5 linked regions of the Homo sapiens genome follow. The protein of the gene in region 2 purifies or fractionates together with the protein of the main gene of each other region. This does not show direct contact. Each region holds a gene or a part of one and is shown on either strand. Other genes may lie near its edges. The genes, in order: CRY1, MLXIPL, FABP1, FBP2 and NR1H4.

Region 1 (4,035 bases), on a different chromosome or scaffold from region 2:
TGATGAGAACACATGGATACATGCGGAGAACAACACATACTGGGGCCAGGTGCAGTAGCTCACACTTGTAATCCCAGCACTTTGGGAGGCCGAGGTGGGTGGATCACCTGAGGTTGGGAGTTTGAGACCAGCCCCTGACCAACATGGAGAAACCCCCGTCTCTACTAAAAAGACAAAATTGGCCGGGCGTGGTAGCGCATGCCTGTAATCCCAGCTACTTGGGAGGCTGAGGCAGGAGAATCACTTGAACCCAGGAGGCAGAGGTTGTGGTGAGCTGAGATCGCGCCATTGCACTCCAGCCTGGATAACAAGAGCAAAACTCCATCTCAAAAACAAAAAACAACAAAACACACATGCTGGGGTCTGTTGGGGGGGCAGGGGCAGGGAGAGCATTAGGAAGAATAGCTAATGCATGCTGGTCTTAATACCTAGGTGATGGGTTGATCTGTGCAGCAAACCCCCATGGCACATGTTTGCCTATGTAACAAACCTGCACATCCTGCACATGTACCCCAGAACTTAAAATAAAAATTGAAGGGAAAAAAAAGAAAAAAGAAATCTATACATGTGATAAAAGAGCATAAAATCATACAAACACTTTGTATCAATGTCAATACCTGGTTATATTGTTGTACTGTAGTTTCATAAGATGTCACTAAGAAGATAGGGAAACAGGACCTCTTTGTACTAACTTTACAACTGTTTGTGAATCTATATTTTTCAAAATAAAAAAAACAGGATAAAAACAGGGTAGCATTTGAGGAATGCTTTTTTAAGTCAGATGTTCTAAGTTGATATTAAGAATAAAACCTTTTAAAAACTGAACCTTTTTGAATTCAGAAATGTCCTGCATCCTCATGAAAACAGCATGTATTTTATCCTCCAAGAATTAGTTTTGGGAGAAGGGGACAAAAGCACTCACATTTTGACTGCCTACCTTTGCCCAGTAGATAGTAAGGGATTTTTGCATACTTTCTCACAGTAACCTGGGGAGGAGGTAGTGGGATCCTCATTTTATATTTGGGGAAATAATCCTAGAAAGATTAGGTAACTTAACCAAGATCCCACAGTTAGTAAGTAGTTGAGCTAAGATTCAGATCCAAGTCTGACTAGCTCCAAAGCTTGTACTTCTTCCTGCATCATTGGGCCTCCTCTGCAAATGGAATGCCATAAGTGTTTACAAGAGAAAATATTTTATTCCTGGAATGTGATCCACCCAGCAGTCGACAGTTGCCAGTGATGGCAGTATACTTGAGAAATGTTCCTTCTCAGTATCTCCTACAATTTGAATAAACTTCCACAAGATAATCATTTCAAAAGTTCTTTCAGATCTCTTGTTCAGTTCACAGCCTGCCTTGTCAGCCCACACATGAGTGAGGGACAGAAGCTCTGTGAAGCACTAAGATAACAGGCAGGTAGCAATGGGCTAGGAACCAAGGGTTGGGCTAATACACAATGATGGCACAGACTGCTTCTTAGACCACTCAAACCTGTGTCGTTTATTTGGAATTATCTTCAAAAGCTAATCATAGTAGCAGGTTAAATTGGGACAATTTTGCTTCACAAATGTATATAGGGTAGTTTATTATATAATAGAAGAATTAATAAATCTTGAAATTATTTTAATCATGTAAATATTTGCCTGTAACATAGTTTGTAGCCAGCTTCTTGGAGGCTTTCAAAAGACATGAGACATGAAAAGCTAAGTAGAACTTAAGTATAAATGGGGGTGTGGAGGGAAAACAAAAACAAATGAAAAAGTGATAAATTATAAGATGCTGCCTCCATGTGCAATATGAGAAAAGGGAGAGATTATTGAGAGCTGAAGGGACTAGAGAAACTTTCTTGAAAGGTGGCAGGATTGAGTAGCATTTGGGTAGTCAGATGAAGGAAAAAAACATTTTAGACCTGGAAATGGGAAATTGTGAAAAGACACGGCTTGGGCTATGCTATTAATATTAAACATTTCTCCTCTCAGGTTTCTGCCCCATTTGAAAGGACTTAAATGCTTCTAAAGCATATCCTTTTATGCCTTACACTTATCCTGTCTGTAGGCTTTTATAGTACCTTACAAGGCATGTCAAAGGGCAAAATTCTTTTACTTGTCTTAGTTTTTTGTTTGTTTGTTTTTGTTTGTTTTTTTAATGACTGTGGAACATTCTTAATCTCTGCAACACAAATTGCATTTTTCTCTGCTCATCTTTGTATTTGTGTGTGTGTGCACATGTGCTCAGGAAAGGAATAAACTATACATAGAAGTCTTACTTTTGTTCTTATAATAAAACAGACTGTAATATGTTTACTACTGTAGCAATATGTTTTAGTTTTTATTTAACTTTTAGGTTTTTTTATTGTAAAATATCAGTTCATCGGCATTATTAGTCATTAGGGAAATGCAAATTAAAACAACTATGGGATAGTACTTCATACTCACTTAGGGTGAGCAACTGCCACTGATTGCCTGGGATTGAAGTTAATTAAAACGAAAGTAAGTGCACAGTCTTGTTCAGGCCATAAGGTGTTGACCTATCCACCTGCTCGTGGATAGGTCCAGAATGCTCATATTTTTCCATAAACTGGACACACTGACAGAAATGTTTCCCTAAAACATACTTCTCTGTTCTAGCCAACCTATTCTCCTATAATAGTGTTTGTTTTTAGAAGGGTTGATAGGATTGCTTAGGCTAGGTAACTGCCACATAGTCTGTGTCTTCTGCTTGTCGTATGATTTGAATTGTTTAACTCATCGGGCAGGCCCTTATTCCCTTATCCTCAAGGAAATATGTTTGGAGGAGCTCTGAAGGAAAAGCGTGGGAAAAGGGACAAGAGTGAGGGAGGAATGTCTATCTCACTCTTGCCCCTATGTTTTACCTTCATGGTCAAGTTTCAAATTGTCATCTAGTAAGGAAATGTTTTTTAGAAAATGATCATCAATGATTTTTCCTTTGAGCTGTCAACACTTCTGTGAGCCTAAATTTAAGTTTTCCTGGTTTGAGCATGTGATTTTTGGTTCATAGGAAGATTGAGATTTAGTCTTAAAAGCATATAAATGACCTTAAGTACAAGCGCTAAAAGTTGGATTTGTAGACTTAATAATACATACATCTTGGATTTGATTTTAAGTAATTTTACTGTGTTTTAAATACTAACAGGTTGCTCTCAAGGGAGTGGTATTTTACACTATGCTCATGGCGACAGTCAGCAAACTCACCTGTTGAAGCAAGGTAAGAATGAAGCATTGGAGCATACTGTTCTTTTTCCTTTTCCTATCTTAAACATACATTTTTTAAATGTGCAGGAAGAAGCTCCATGGGCACTGGTCTCAGTGGTGGGAAACGTCCTAGTCAGGAAGAGGACACACAGAGTATTGGTCCTAAAGTCCAGAGACAGAGCACTAATTAGGTAAATATTTTAGAGCTGTATTTCTTGCTTTAGAAGAGTATATAATTAACATAAATTAAGATAATTTCAAAAATGGAGCAAATCTCTATTTTCAAACCAGAAAATCTTGAGGCATTAATTTTTAAGCAATTTTTACAAACTCAGTTAATTTTTGGTCAAGAGACATGCATCTGTACTGGAGAAATTGTTGCACCAGTTTTATATTCATCTGAACCAATGCTCTTTAAATTAGAGATGTTTATGATTTTGTGGTCAAGTTTTTTCTTAGAAAAAGACAACTTTTTTATTTCCTTACTATGTAACTATGAGTCTAAAACAATTAAAGTGGCCTGTTTATTTTAGTGACATTAATATAATCTTTTTATGAACTTTCCCCTAAATCTTTGCCTCTTAAATGTTGATAAATTTCTTTTATCTGTTATGATGCTTCTAAAATCTAAATTATTTCCAATTTGGGAATAGTTCAAAATTTTTTAAAATGCTGGCCCTTATTAGAAGTATCAGAAAGCCTTGCCTGCATTCAATTTAATTGGATTTGGGATGTCATTTTGTGATTTAAATTAATATGAAAAATATTTATACGTTGGATTTGCCAGTTTTTAAAAATTTTCTGTTTCTTCAGTTTCTAACACT
Region 2 (4,035 bases):
AGCCCACCCTTAGGCCCCTCTCGCCCCCACCCCACTCAGAGCCCACCCTTAGGGCCCCTCTCGCCCCCACCCCTTTCGGAGCCCAGCCTTAGGCCCCTCTCGCCCCCACCCCACTCGGAGCCCACCCTTAGGCCCCCTCTCATCCCCACCCTACTTGGAGCCCACCCTTAGCCCCTCTTGCCCCCACCCCACTTGGAGCCCAGTCTTAGGTCCCCCTTCACCCCCCCCCCACTTGGAGCCCACCCGTATCCCCCTCTTGCCCACACCCCACTCAGAACCCACCCTTAGGCCCCTCTCGCCCCCACCCCACTCAGAGCCCACCCTTAGCCCCTCTTGCCCACACCCCACTTGGAGCCCAGCCTTAGGCACCCCCCTCACCCCCATCCCACTCAGAGCCCACCCATATCTCCCTCTTGCCCACACACCACTCAGAGCCCACCCTTAGGCCCCTCTCGCCCCCACCCCACTCGGAGCCCAGCCTTAGGCCCCTCTCGCCCCATTACACTCTTCACCCCACTCCTAGGCTCCACCTGTTGACCTTCCAACAAACCAAGCTTGTCCCGGACCCAGTGACCTCACGTTCCCCCTCATCTCCAACTCACCCTCTTGAACTTCTGCCACCCTGGGGCCCCTCCCATGCCAGGCCTCCTCCCCTAGCACCGTACCCCTTTTCCACCCTGGCACTCGCTCTGGGCACCCCCTTTCTGCACCTCCAGCAGATCAGGGAAGGGGAGCCACCAGGGGGTGGGGAGGGGGACTTCCTGAGCTAAGCCTGGGGCTGGGGAGGGGAGGGGGCTCCTTCCTGGGGTCCCTGTTCACATCCACAGTCCCCTGCTCTCTCCCACGCAAGCTCATTCCACCCAAGACGGTTGCTGCTTCCCCTAATCGAGACAGAAACCCTCCCAGTTTCACAATCTTCTGTGGAAGGGACCCCCACCCTCTGCCCGCCAGTCCCCATGTCCCCACCCGCCAAGGCTGGGGACAGGCCACTCTCCTCTCAGCTGTTTCCCAGCCATAGCCCTGGCCCTAACTGCTGTTGCCCTGTGTGTCTGAATTACAGATTTCTTTACCAACTCCCGCCTCCCACAGCCGCCCATGCCTTCAAACTTCCCAGAGCCCCCCAGCTTCAGCCCCGTGGTTGACTCCCTCTTCAGCAGTGGGACCCTGGGCCCAGAGGTGCCCCCGGCTTCCTCGGCCATGACCCACCTCTCTGGACACAGCCGTCTGCAGGTGAGCTCACCCCACCCCGTCCAGCCCTGTGTAGCTCACTTGAGAGCTGTTCCTGCCCTGTTCATGTCCAGGAGGTATCAGACACTCCCTGAGTGCCCAGTCTTCTGCTTGGAGATTGGAGGGAAAGAAAGACCCCATCTCTGCCCTCTGGGAGGGACCCCGTGAAGCAGAACTGGACAAAACGGTTGTGGGAGAAAGCTAAGGGCATGGAGACCATGGAATGGGCTCCACCAAGGGCCAGTTGCTTGTGGAAGGCTTCCTGGAGAAGGGGAGTTTCTGGGCCTTAGAGAATAGGTCAGCTTTGGACAGAAGGGACTGGCTGACCTCAAGCCAGATGGGAGAACAGCAGGAACAAAAGCTTCGAGGCAGAAAGCTGAGCGTGGATGTTTAGGAAACAGTGAATCTACCATTTTGGTTCATCAATTCCCCATATGCAATTCTTTTTTTTTTTTTTCTTTGAGACAGAGTCTCACTCTGTCGCCTAGGCTCGAGTGCAGTGGCATGATCTCGGCTCACTGTAACCTCCGCCTCCCGTGTTCAAGCGATTTCCGGCTTATTTTTGTATTTTTAGTAGAGACAGGGTTTCACCATGTTGCCCAGGCTGGTCTCAAACTCCTGACCTCAGTAGTCCGCCCGCCTCGGCCTCCCAAGGTGGTGGGATTACAGGTGTGAGCCACCACACCTGGCCCCCAGGTGCAGTTCAGAAGTTGCTTCCTGCTGCTTGGTTATAGGCCTTTTCCCTCCATCATCAGACTTTTCAGGTGCTAATTCTAATCGGTTGCTGAGGGGTGTCTCTCCTCCATCAGACAGTGAGCTCCTTACTGAAAGGGTTATGTTTTGCTCACCACTGCATTCTCTATACCTAATACAGCTCAGGCACATAACAGCACTCAGTGAATGGTTGTCCAATGAGTGAGTCAGTGACTGAATGAATGAGCAAGTGTGCAGATGAATGGGCGTGCTGGTGAATGGATAGATGCATCTTAGACTGCGGTGGAGGCACACGTGGGTTGGTGGATATATGGGTAGGTGAGTGGTTGGGTGGATGGGTGGGCTGGTGGATGGATACATAGATGAATAGTTTAATGGATTAGTGAATGGGTTCATTGGTGGTTAAGTGGCTGGAAATGTATAGATGGTGGATGGATGGAAGGATTATGGATGGGTTGGTGGATGAATGATGGAAGTATAGATGGTTGGATGGATTAGTTAATATGTTAATATCTGGTAGGCTGGTGGAGAGAGTGGTAGATGAGCTGGTTCATAGATTGATAAATAGGTAGGTGAATGGATGGAAGACGGATGGATGGAGAGATTGGTGGATGAAGTAGTAGATGGACAATTGATGAATGGATGGGTGGGTTGGTTAGTGGATGGATTGGTGAAGTTAGTGGATGGATGATGAAGGAATGGTAGGTTGGTTGGTGGATGGATCAGTGGACAAGTTAGTGGATGGATGGATGATGAATGGATGGGTGAGTTGGTTGGTGGATGGATTGGTGGACAAGTTAGTGGATGGATGGATGAATAAGTTATTTGGGAGACAAATGGACGGGCAGGAAGATTGATGCTCCGCTGTTCCTGCTTTTTGCATAAATGTACTCGACTCCCTCCTCTCATTGTAATTTCCCTGCTGCATGTATATGTTCGCACACCTGTGTGTGTTGGAAGGCAGGGCTCATTTCTCCTATCTCTCCCCAGGGCCCCAGTCTAGAGTTTGGCCAGGGCAAGGCAGGGCAGGGGAGGCCCAGATGGCTGCCAGGGGCAGCTCTCTCCCCTGCTCTCTGAGTGTCTGTCTGTCCCCCCAACCAGGCTCGGAACAGCTGCCCTGGCCCCTTGGACTCCAGCGCCTTCCTGAGTTCTGATTTCCTCCTTCCTGAAGACCCCAAGCCCCGGCTCCCACCCCCTCCTGTACCCCCACCTCTGCTGCATTACCCTCCCCCTGCCAAGGTGCCAGGCCTGGAGCCCTGCCCCCCACCTCCCTTCCCTCCCATGGCACCACCCACTGCTTTGCTGCAGGAAGAGCCTCTCTTCTCTCCCAGGTTTCCCTTCCCCACCGTCCCTCCTGCCCCAGGAGTGTCTCCGCTGCCTGCTCCTGCAGCCTTCCCACCCACCCCACAGTCTGTCCCCAGCCCAGCCCCCACCCCCTTCCCCATAGAGCTTCTACCCTTGGGGTATTCGGAGCCTGCCTTTGGGCCTTGCTTCTCCATGCCCAGAGGCAAGCCCCCCGCCCCATCCCCTAGGGGACAGAAAGCCAGCCCCCCTACCTTAGCCCCTGCCACTGCCAGTCCCCCCACCACTGCGGGGAGCAACAACCCCTGCCTCACACAGCTGCTCACAGCAGGTGAGGGCCAGCAACGGGGAGAGGAAAGCCTGGGGAGGGAGGCCAGGGGGTGGGGAGGACAGGGGGTTTTGGGAGCAGAAGATGAAGGTGAAGGGGCAGGTCCAGTTCAAGGGACAGAGTGGCAAGGAATGAGGGATGTGGGGCCTGTACCTAAAAGGGGTGTGGACTCTTGGGAGGGGCAGGATGGGGTCTTGATAGATGCCGGGGGTGGGCCAGCCCCAGTAGCCTCACGGTTCTGCCCGTGCACAGCTAAGCCGGAGCAAGCCCTGGAGCCACCACTTGTATCCAGCACCCTCCTCCGGTCCCCAGGGTCCCCGGTAAGATCTCGGGCACTGGGCGGTGGGGCTGTGCCCACGGCCTTCAACCCGACTCTCCGCCCTTCTCCACCCCAGCAGGAGACAGTCCCTGAATTCCCCTGCACATTCCTTCCCCCGACCCCGGCCCCTACACCGCCCCGGCCA
Region 3 (2,581 bases), on a different chromosome or scaffold from region 2:
TGAAGTGAAAGGACTGTTTGAGCCTAGGAGTTCAAGACCAGCCTGGGCAACATAGCAAGACCTCATCTCAATTAAAAAAAAAAAAAAAAGAAGAATACATACCAAAGCAAAATATGTATTCTCTACTGGTCAATATTTGAATTTTGCCACTACCTCCCTCCATTAGCTTGGGAGAATTGAGATTTTACTTGATTTGATTTTAGCATTTGTATTTGGGGCCACTTAGGTGTTCCATGCTCATTTCTAGATCACATGCCATGAATTAAAGTTCTGACAAAAGAAGTCGTGACATTTTATTTAGTTCTTAAATGCACCTCACTTCTATTTGGAGCCAGAGAACTAGAGGCTTGGGATCATAGGAACCAGAGCATTTTGGTTGTTATGAGCTGAGACCTGTGCAAAGGAAGCAACTTCATTAGCAAGGCTCTTGCCCCCCACCACCCCTTCCTCACAGGTCACCTCTCTGTTCCCTGCAGACAGTGGTTCAGTTGGAAGGTGACAATAAACTGGTGACAACTTTCAAAAACATCAAGTCTGTGACCGAACTCAACGGCGACATAATCACCAATGTAAGTTGGTGGTGCTCTGAGCGTGTGGCTCCCAGTGCTTGAGGGGAGAGGGGAGGTGAAGCATGGGGAGCGGCTCACATACCCTAATGCCACCCCTCCACCCTCCAACCCCCAAACTTCTTTCCTGTGGTCAGTATCTGCCAGCACTTACTGAGGATCCATCATGTCCCAGGCAGTTTACACACATTATCACTAATCCTTTCTGCTCAGCGCAACCAACCAGCCACAGAGGCCTCCACCTGCCCTGCATGCCCAGGGTGCTTCATAAATGCCTTTGCCCATTTAGCGTTTATAAAGAGAATCCCATTCATGGTCATATTATGGCAGCTTACAAGCCTGGCACAGTCCAGTTATGCAGTCAGCCTTGGTGCCTGGCTGCCAGCCACATCCTGTACCCTATTTGGGGGTGAATGGTGCAGTGTTTCTCCTGCAGGTATGTCCCCCTGACTCTTCTTTGCCCCCAGAATATGCTTTAGGGAGTCACAGACAACAGAACACTGCCTCAGGGCGCTGTCATCACTCTATTCAAATGGAAAAATTCTTAAACTAGAGAGAGTGTGAGCATCAACCACCCAATGTGCAGTTTCCACCTCCGCCCCAGCACATTCCCAGGAGAGCAGGGGAGCAGGAGATGAGCTATCCTGCAGTAAGTCCTGGCCAACGCCCTTTGATAGGTTCCATCTCACCTAATCCTCCTGTCTCCTTCGAGGGAGGCTGGATGAGGGATTCAATAGACAGGTTGACCTGTCCAAGTCATCAGCTAATAAATGTTAAATCCAGGGCTCAAACCCATCAAGCAGCAACTATTGCATTGCTGCTGAAACTGAGGGGCTCCTTTTCACCCTGATGACATGGTATGTCATTCCAGCAGTCTTATTCAAGAGAACTGGCAGGGGTGGAGGAAACATCCTTAAAAACTCAAAAGCTGATGCATCCACTGTTTTTATATGCTTCACAGCTATAGGAGGACAATTATGCACTACCCACTGCCTTCCAGGCTGTGTGCCTAGTTGTGTCCATGTACATGTATCCTTGGTGCTCAACATGTATTTGGTGCATAGTAGGTACTCAATGAAATTTTGAGAAATTAGATTGGGCTGGTTTGGATGGTCTTGCTATAACAGTCATTGATGTAGAAAAGAATTCAGTCAAAGGCAGGAGGACTTTCCAGGTGAGGAGGAGAAGTGACAAAGACTTGGCATAGGATTTTGGAAAACATTGCCAACCTTTCCTCCGGTCCTACAGGAAACCAGACGAATTTTTGAATTGTTTCATATGCCAACATATTTGGTGCTGTTTTTTAAGCTTAATTTTGTTTTTTATGCTTAATTTTGTTTTTTACAATACAACATCAGATGAACACTTCATAATTTCTTTTCTGGCTTTCAGACCATGACATTGGGTGACATTGTCTTCAAGAGAATCAGCAAGAGAATTTAAACAAGTCTGCATTTCATATTATTTTAGTGTGTAAAATTAATGTAATAAAGTGAACTTTGTTTTAAAAAAAAATGTCTTCTCAATGCCTTTTCATTGATGGTGCTATTGCTCACCATATTCTCGTAAATATACTTTCGTAAATGTTGATAATCCACATGATCCACACTACCAGGTCAAATCCGAAGAGTAATTCCCTGAACACAAAACCCATGCTGCACACCCAGGTGTTCTGCCAGGAAAGCCAGGTGTGGCTAGATCTGCAGGAAGGCCCTGGAATGCCCTTTCCCAGTCAGGCACACGGGCAAGGAGCTGGAGCCAGAGGATGTGCAGTGGGCTGGCCTTGAGGGTGCTCTCTGTGGGGACAGGGAGCAGGAAGACTGGGCAGAAAAGGAGAGCTATACCCACAAGCACAGCCACAGTACCAGCCCACCAGCAGACAGGTGCAGAAAGGTCGACACTGACCCGCCCAATAAACTTTTCCTCCTGTGGGAGGCTGAGCAAAGGGCTTAGTGAGAGGCGCCAGAAGTGGACAGAGGAGGCTCAGTGGAAGTTCCCTCCATGCTATGGGCAGG
Region 4 (4,035 bases), on a different chromosome or scaffold from region 2:
TTAAGACCCCCTAGTGACTTCCTCATTCAGCCTTTTGTCTTCTCAGGTATGGAATCGCAGGAAGCGTTAACGTGACGGGAGATGAGGTGAAGAAACTGGATGTGCTATCCAATTCCCTGGTGATCAACATGGTCCAATCCTCCTATAGTACCTGCGTCCTGGTCTCAGAAGAGAATAAGGACGCCATCATCACCGCCAAGGAGAAGCGGGTGCGTCATGGGGCTGCGGTGCCCGCTCGCCAGTAGATGATGATACTGAGCCGGAAATAAGCTGCCTTACTTTTCTTTAATTCCCGGGATTCTCCTCTATTTCTTAACATTTGTTTTCTGGAAACAAAGGATTACATACTTCTCTACTTGGAAATCTTGTGCTGTCTAGAGAAAGAAGACTCCACAGTAGGACAGTGATTCATTCAGGAAATTGTTCAGAGTGATGCAGGAACCGCCTCAGTGGGCGCTTGTTCGTGGCTGTTCACTTAATCAGTAACAAGAGCCAAATTTTTGGGGGCTTAACCTTGTGGAGTCCAGGGAAGAGCTGTACTGTACAGCCTCTCACCGCCCCGCCTTCTCATTCCACCCCCGCCCCCAGCCGGCACTTTGCGAGGGGTTACAGTTTCAGCAGAGATTTCTTAGTGCCTGACAAGCTGTTAGACTGGTCCAGAAACAAAACCACAAGCCTCCTGTGCTCTTACCTCGTAGGATGGTGAAGTCGGTGAAGGAAGGCACGGCTGGGGAGGGTCTGCATTCACTATGGGTTCACACACAGCTTATTATACAGAGAGGTTTGCCAATGGCCAAAAGTTTCAATCAATGTTCAGCTGCAATATAGTCAATAGACAAGAGGCCATTTCTTTGTGATTAGCTGGAGGAATGGAAAAGAATTTAAAGTAAAGCCAAATTTATTTAACCTCTGCTCTATGCCAGGTACTGCAAAAGGCACTTTTGCCCTCGTCTCACATAATTTTAGCTACATCACACTATTACTTCCAACTTTCAGTTTCAGTTGATATGACTCTTGTTTCTCTCTCCAGTCTGATCTACCATTGTCTTCTCCTATTGGCCTAAGCCACATAGCCACATAGGTCTTCATGTCAGTTCCTTTATTTATTTATTTACTTATTTATTTATTTTTTTGAGACGGAGTCTTGCTCTACTGCCCGGCTGGACAGGCTGGAGTGCAATGGCGCAATCTCAGCTCACTGTAACCTCTGCCTCCCGGGTTCAAGCAATTCTCCCGCCTCAGCCTCCTGAGTAGCTGGGATTACAGGCATGCGCCACCATGCCCCGCTAATTTTTGTGTTTTTAGTAGAGACGGGGTTTCGCCATGTTGGCCAGGCTGGTCTTGAACTCTGACCTCAGGTGATCCACCCGCCTCAGGCTCCCAAAGTGCTGGGATTACAGGCGTGAGCCACCATGCCTGGCCCGTGGCAGCTCTTGAATACTCCAAACCTGCTGATCTCTCTGTCGAAAATTCTTCTTTCTAGGATGGGCGCGGTGGCTCACGCCTGCAATCCCGGTGCTTTGGGAGGCTGAGGTGGGAGGATTGCTTGAGCTCAGGAGTTTGAGACCAGCCTAGGCAACATAAAGATACAAAAGATAAAAATTTAGCTCGGCATGGTGGTGTGCACCTGTAGTCCCAGCTACTCGGGAGTCTGAGGTGGGAGAATTGCTTGAGCTCAGGAGTTTGAGACCAGCCTAGGCAACATAAAGATACAAAAGATAAAAATTTAGCTCGGCATGGTGGTGTGCACCTGTAGTCCCAGCTACTTGGGAGTCTGAGGTGGGAGGATTGCTTGAGCCCAGGATCTCTAGGCTGCAGCGAGCTCTGACCACACCACTGCACTCCATCCTGGGCAACAGAGTGAGACTCTGTCAAAACAAAACAAAAACAAGAAAACAAACAATTTTGCTTTCTAGGTCTCTGTGTGTTTCTTCATTCCTTAATTCTAGTCAGGTCTGTCATCAAATGTGACCCCCCCTCATGGCTCTCCAGCCCCCAGCCTATGTGGGTTTTCGTTAGGGCACGTGCCACAGCCTGCTTGTATGTGTCCTGACCTGTGTGCTCTCTGTCTGTTCTCCCACTGGAATGTCAGTGCCATGAAATCCAGCCTTGCTGCCGGGATCGCTGACCCCCCGGAAACAAACCCCAGGGCCTTGAACACTTACTTCCCAGCATATGCTGGAAGCTCAACATGTATCTGCTGAATGCATGCATGCATGAATGAATGGGCTAAATTGGATTTTTTTTTAAAAAATTGGATTATTATAGAGATGTTGGGGAATTTCCAAGTTTACAAATTATCTAACTTTTCTACTCTGGCTGAGCAAGGAAAAAAAACAGAAACAAAGCTCAAATGAAGCTAGGCCAATACTCATTGGAAAGTCAGGGAAAACTAAATCAAGTGGAGGGAGAAATGACCCTCATTTCTCTTGAAGTTGCATTACCCGTGTTTAATTGGCCTGGGGGTTCCGGTCGCCATCACTAAGGGTCTCTCGTGACCTTGCACACAGGGGGCTATAAAAAGGACCTGGGGCTTCCCTTGGTGGCTTGAGCTGCCTGTGACAGCAGAGTGGGTGGGTGTGGGGGACGTTGGTCTCTCAAGACACACCCACTTTATCTTCTGGTCTTCGCATCAGACAGGTGAGATGGATACAAAACCCAGAGGAGTATTTGTGTATAAACTGGCACCCTGCCCTCCGTAAGTCATGGTGTTTTTTGATAAAGATATGCTGTGGTTCTCAATCTCTTTTTGATGTGGTGTACTCTGCCACGCACAGCCCTGACACAGAGCAATTGTGCTAATGGGAAGATGTGCTGATCAGTTGGTGCTTTCCTCTCTGATTTAGGGGAAATACGTGGTCTGCTTTGACCCACTGGATGGATCTTCCAATATTGACTGCCTGGCCTCCATCGGAACCATCTTTGCCATCTATAGAAAGGTGAGTAGACAGGCTGACATTTTACACCTCCTTCCTGTGGTGGTCTCTGGAAGGTTCCTGGGCTGAAAACCGTGTGTTTGGAGTCCTACCCTTTGTCTTCCCACTAACGAGAAAAGCCACTGTAGGCAAACCACCAACTTTTCTCTGCCTGGGGCTCCTCATTAGAAGAACTGGATTGGCGATTCTTTCTCTGCCTACTTTCTGGCATTCCTGGGAGGGTAACACAGAAGGACAGCTGAGATCTTGTTTTGAAAGTCTGGGTGCAACACAAATGTCAGACATGGCATTAGGTTCCAGGTGGCATTCTGAATCTCTGACATCCTCTCCCCCTCTTGCCTCATCTCTCCTGTCCCCAGCCACAGAAAGTTTTCTGCTAACGCTCATTGGATTAGATTGAACTAATCTAACCTGGAAGGTCCACGGTGATCTCCCTATTTGAAATCTGAACCCCTGAGTACACCTGAAAAGTCTTTGTTGCCATGTAATGCTGGGTATTCACAGATCCTGGGGACTGGCATATCTTTTGGGCCATTCTGCCTACCCTGAAATCCTAGCAACAGAGAGCTGGGTGGGTTTGTGACATCCAGCAGGACTAGAAACTTCACAATTCAGAAAACTTGTCCTTCATTCTATATAAAGTGTACAACGGCAATAAAATCCATAGCAACCTCGCCAGCTGCGGTGGCTCACGCCTGTAATCCCAGAACTTTGGGAGGCTGAGGCGGGCGGATCACTTGAGGCCTTGAGGCTAGGTGGTCGAGACCAGTCTGGGAAACATGGTGAAACCCCGTCTCTACTAAAAATACAAAAATTAGCCAGGGTGATGGTGCACGCCTGTAATTCCAGCTACTCAGGAGGCTGAGGCAAGAGAATTGCTTGAACCCAGGAAGTGCAGGTTGCAGTGAGCTGAGATCATGCCACTGCACTCCAGCCTGGGTGACAGAGCAAGACTCTCTCAAACAAACAATCCATAGCAACCAAAGAGAAAAATAAGCAGAGTGCCAGTTACATTGTATTTGAGAGTCTTCTATGTATTAGGAAGTTGATTAAACCGTGCTCTTACAGAGTCTTGAGATAGGGAATCTATGGCAGAAAT
Region 5 (4,035 bases), on a different chromosome or scaffold from region 2:
TGTACATGCGAAGAAAGTGTCAAGAGTGTCGACTAAGGAAATGCAAAGAGATGGGAATGTTGGCTGAATGTATGTATACAGGTATTCACTTCAAGCAATTACATTTCACTAAAAATCTCTTAAGGAGGCAGATGTCAGGTAACTCATCACGAGAGTGCTACTTCACATATTAAAGAAGGAACCTACTAAGCCATCTAAGTTCTTGAAAAGGGTAATGAACCACTGAAATTGTCCAAACTGTCAACTAAAGAGCATTTTAGTCACCCGAAAGAAATGGGTTTTTTTTGTTGTTTTTCTTTGTCGCAGTGAACTATACATGGAGCCCAGTGGCATTAACATACCATTCAAATAATGTGCTTTAATGAGCTACGAATGACATCTAAAAGTTTCCTCTAAATTTGATTTTAATATACTTATTATTTATTGCTTAATTAGCATACAAATTCACTATTGTGGAAAAAAATGAGAATGCTTTATAAGGTATAACTGCCTCTGAATTGTCTAAATAGAGTTCTAAACCAAGTCATTTTATTAAGGATCTGTCTTCTCTTAGTGCAGCTTTGAACCAATTTGTATAGGTTTACACAGGAAATTAACTACTCCCAGTTTTAATATAATTTTGTCTTTCTATCTGATAAAGAGACACTGTATTAACTGCTGGCTTTGTGAGGAACTGTAATCTTCATCAAAAATTGGAATGCATGCTAGTATATAACATAATTAATTTTTCATTCTGCAAATTCTACAGACCACTCAGATTCTGAGATATGTCCTGTTTCTCCTCAAAACACAAATAGACAAATGTCACCAAGGGGATGACAGCATTCAGGCAGGGAATGCCAAATGAAATAAAAGCCTTCAGAAGGTGACTCCAGTTCTATTGTTACCAAACTGTACGGGCAACTGGGATGGACCCAGGGAAATAATGCATGCAGGTTGGGGGAAAATAGGTCTGTGTAAATAATCCAGCTCTGGGTGGATGAAAATTTTATAGTAGCTGATCACAATCTCATCTTAGCATACATGAAATGAGAACCTGCAATAGGGGCTGCTGCTGGAATCCAATCTTGCAATGGAAACACTTACTCTGACACTGCACAGCTCATATAGCTCATCACTTAAATATGAACTTGTTCCAGCTGGAGCGCTGAGGACATTTTGCATGAAGCCACATATAGCAGTCTATAATATTTATGAACACAAACTCATCCAGTAACAGATGCGGATATTTCATGGTTCTATAAAATAAATTCCCTGTACAAAGAAATTCCTGGAACTTTGTTTTATTGGCATTGAGAAAAGAGTAAGGACGTTAAATGGGATGAAGGGAAGATTGTTTTACATTATTTTTAATAGCTCTCTTTTTTTTTTTTTTGTTGAGACGGAGTCTCGCTCTGTCGCCCAGGCCGGACTGCGGACTGCAGTGGCGCAATCTCGGCTCACTGCAAGCTCCGCTTCCCGGGTTCACGCCATTCTCCTGCCTCAGCCTCCCGAGTAGCTGGGACTACAGGCGCCCGCCACTGCGCCCGGCTAATTTTTTGTATTTTTAGTAGAGACGGGGTTTCACCTTGTTAGCCAGGATGGTCTCGATCTCCTGACCTCATCCACCCGCCTCGGCCTCCCAAAGTGCTGGGATTACAGGCGTGAGCCACCGCGCCCGGCCTTAATAGCTCTCTTTAAGTGTAAATCAATGAGGTTGATTGTATGATCATTCAAAGACATTTTAAAAGTCACCTTGTATTATTTTTATTTTTAACTGTATTCTCAGGAATTGGCACTGTTCTTAAAATTAACAGGATTTTAAAAATTTCCCTAAAGGATGTTAACATTTGTTTTTCTCAATAAGTTTATATGTATTTAATGTGAAATTCAATATCCTTCTTCTGGTACAGTATGTAAACATGGATGAAAATAATATTAATGGCATGTTTTAAAACACCAATTTTCACAGTCCCCTAGAGCAGGAACAGGGAGAGTGTCATTCACCTTTTCATTGACTGAATCCCTTGCATTTGTACAATGCTTTCATATCACAAGTTCTTTATATAAAGCTCATTTAAAAATGATTATTGCTTTTATTTTGTGTAGATTATTGCTTTTAATCTACACAAAACTCTATGAGGTAGATATTATTCCCATTTTACAAATGAGGAAACTGAGACTCACAGAGGTTAAACTACTTGTTCAAGGTTAAGTCTCAAACCTTGGCCTTCCCTTTCTAAAATGCATAAAAGGCTAGCGTTAGTTCTGTGCCATTGCATAGGGGATCTTCTGGGCCAGGTACATATCAGTGGTTTTATGACCACACACCCAACAGTACTTTCTGTGATTGGTGAAGTCTCTATGCTTATTTGTTTTAGGCTTGTTAACTGAAATTCAGTGTAAATCTAAGCGACTGAGAAAAAATGTGAAGCAGCATGCAGATCAGACCGTGAATGAAGACAGTGAAGGTCGTGACTTGCGACAAGTGACCTCGACAACAAAGTCATGCAGGGTAATAATATGCAATGGTGTCTGCCAAGACTGGCAGGAACTGAGTTTCTAGGTACATAGTGAGCTGGCCAGGAGGCTTTCAAATTAAAGCCACAGGCACAGCTGAATTTCTAGTCCAATTGTTCATTAAAATGGATTCCTAATACATGCTTTGATGTAAACATTCAAATAGTAGCAATGCATAAACTAAAAAGTGAAAGTTTTCCTTCTCTCTGACTCCATTCCAGTCCTACTACCTAGTGTTTGCCAGCAGAAATGATTTGGTGTATAAAATGGATTTTTTCCAACTGAGTATTGATGACCATTTTTTCCCTCTTTTTGAGAAGACAGTCTCAAACTGGGAAGAACATGGTCTCAATAGAGGCTGTGGATTAATCCTTATAAATGAGTAAAACAGGGTGAATACACGTATGTGGATGAATAGAGAAAAGTCCTACCCACTGGGGTTACAAATTTCTCAAGAAATCCATTGAGCAACTTAGGACAAAATAGGGGAACAGCATCCAAGGTGTTTAGACACACACATTGTGATAATGCACAGGACATTTGATGGAATTTTATTTTGCCATTAGCTGAAAAACCAGTAAGCTATGATTGTCCAAACCACACCCTTCTCAATATTTATTACATTATTGACAAAGAAAACTTTATCCACATTTAGTTTTACAAATACGTATTTTTGTATTTATTTAAGAAAAAGTATTTTATATGAAAGCATTATTTTGCCATAGTGCTTCATCAGTAACACTTTGGTATAAGAAAACAAAGAGTTGACATAATTATTCACACTCTTCAAAAGATGCTGTAGAGGGAGAAAGAGATGTTTGGGGTCTGAATTGTCCAGATTGTTGACTCTCTATTTTAGGGGTTGACAAACTTTTTTTCTTTAAAGGGCTTTGGCCACATGGTATCTACAACAGCTACTCAACTCTGCCATTTTAGTGCAAAAGTAGCAGAGACAATACATAAACAAATGAGTGTGACTGTGTTCCAATAAAACTTTATAAAATCCAATGGATTTGGTCCATGGGCCACAGTTTGTTGATCCCTCCTCCACATGAATACTCTCAGATGACTTCACCAGGTGGAATTCATGTAGAATAGTATATGAATATAGTATTCATAGTAGTCATACTATATGAAAACCTTTCATTAGTTATAATTAAAGCTTGAACTTTCAGTGACCTTCAATATGAATGGGCTCAATAGTCTTCATATCCAGACTACCATTTATTCCTAAGAAATACACAAGTGGAATATTTTGTTATTCATATTTTATAGATAGGAAAATTCAGTGAAATGTGATATGGCCTGCCTGAGGACCCAGAGAAAGAAATTATACACTCTCTTAGAACTCATAGTTCCTGCTGTATTTATGCCTTTTTTTTTTTATGATTTCTGCTATTAGGTCCCTCCAGATGAATGCACATATAGAAAGAAGGCTTTATACACATCTTCCCTAACACCTTTTATTTTCTTGCCAGTGTAGGAGAAAACTGAACTCACCCCAGATCAACAGACTCTTCTACATTTTATTATGGA

The links.
Region 1: the proteins of MLXIPL (region 2) and CRY1 purify together in Homo sapiens (affinity purification with western blotting, with the first as the bait; one study listed by BioGRID). This does not show direct contact.
Region 3: the proteins of MLXIPL (region 2) and FABP1 purify together in Homo sapiens (affinity purification with mass spectrometry, with the first as the bait; one study listed by BioGRID). This does not show direct contact.
Region 4: the proteins of MLXIPL (region 2) and FBP2 purify together in Homo sapiens (affinity purification with mass spectrometry, with the first as the bait; one study listed by BioGRID). This does not show direct contact.
Region 5: the proteins of MLXIPL (region 2) and NR1H4 purify together in Homo sapiens (affinity purification with mass spectrometry, with the first as the bait; one study listed by BioGRID). This does not show direct contact.

What each region holds. Positions count from the first base shown.
Region 1 is NC_000012.12:106,992,154-106,996,188, reverse strand, and holds part of CRY1 (cryptochrome-1), read left to right. Parts: intron 1-3,152; coding exon 3,153-3,224; intron 3,225-3,298; coding exon 3,299-3,402; exon of another isoform or gene 3,403-4,035.
Region 2 is NC_000007.14:73,596,721-73,600,755, reverse strand, and holds part of MLXIPL (carbohydrate-responsive element-binding protein), read left to right. Parts: intron 1-1,060; coding exon 1,061-1,230; intron 1,231-3,042; coding exon 3,043-3,574; intron 3,575-3,823; coding exon 3,824-3,891; intron 3,892-3,966; coding exon 3,967-4,035. UniProt on the Homo sapiens protein: Binds DNA as a heterodimer with MLX/TCFL4 and activates transcription. Binds to the canonical E box sequence 5'-CACGTG-3'. Plays a role in transcriptional activation of glycolytic target genes. Involved in glucose-responsive gene regulation.
Region 3 is NC_000002.12:88,122,482-88,125,062, reverse strand, and holds the end of FABP1 (fatty acid-binding protein, liver), read left to right. Parts: intron 1-476; coding exon 477-569; intron 570-1,958; coding exon 1,959-2,009; 3' UTR 2,010-2,081; downstream 2,082-2,581.
Region 4 is NC_000009.12:94,583,481-94,587,515, reverse strand, and holds part of FBP2 (fructose-1,6-bisphosphatase isozyme 2), read left to right. Parts: intron 1-46; coding exon 47-209; intron 210-2,846; coding exon 2,847-2,939; intron 2,940-4,035.
Region 5 is NC_000012.12:100,532,530-100,536,564, forward strand, and holds part of NR1H4 (bile acid receptor), read left to right. Parts: coding exon 1-81; intron 82-2,360; coding exon 2,361-2,494; intron 2,495-3,977; coding exon of another isoform or gene 3,978-3,982; coding exon 3,983-4,035. UniProt on the Homo sapiens protein: Ligand-activated transcription factor. Receptor for bile acids (BAs) such as chenodeoxycholic acid (CDCA), lithocholic acid, deoxycholic acid (DCA) and allocholic acid (ACA).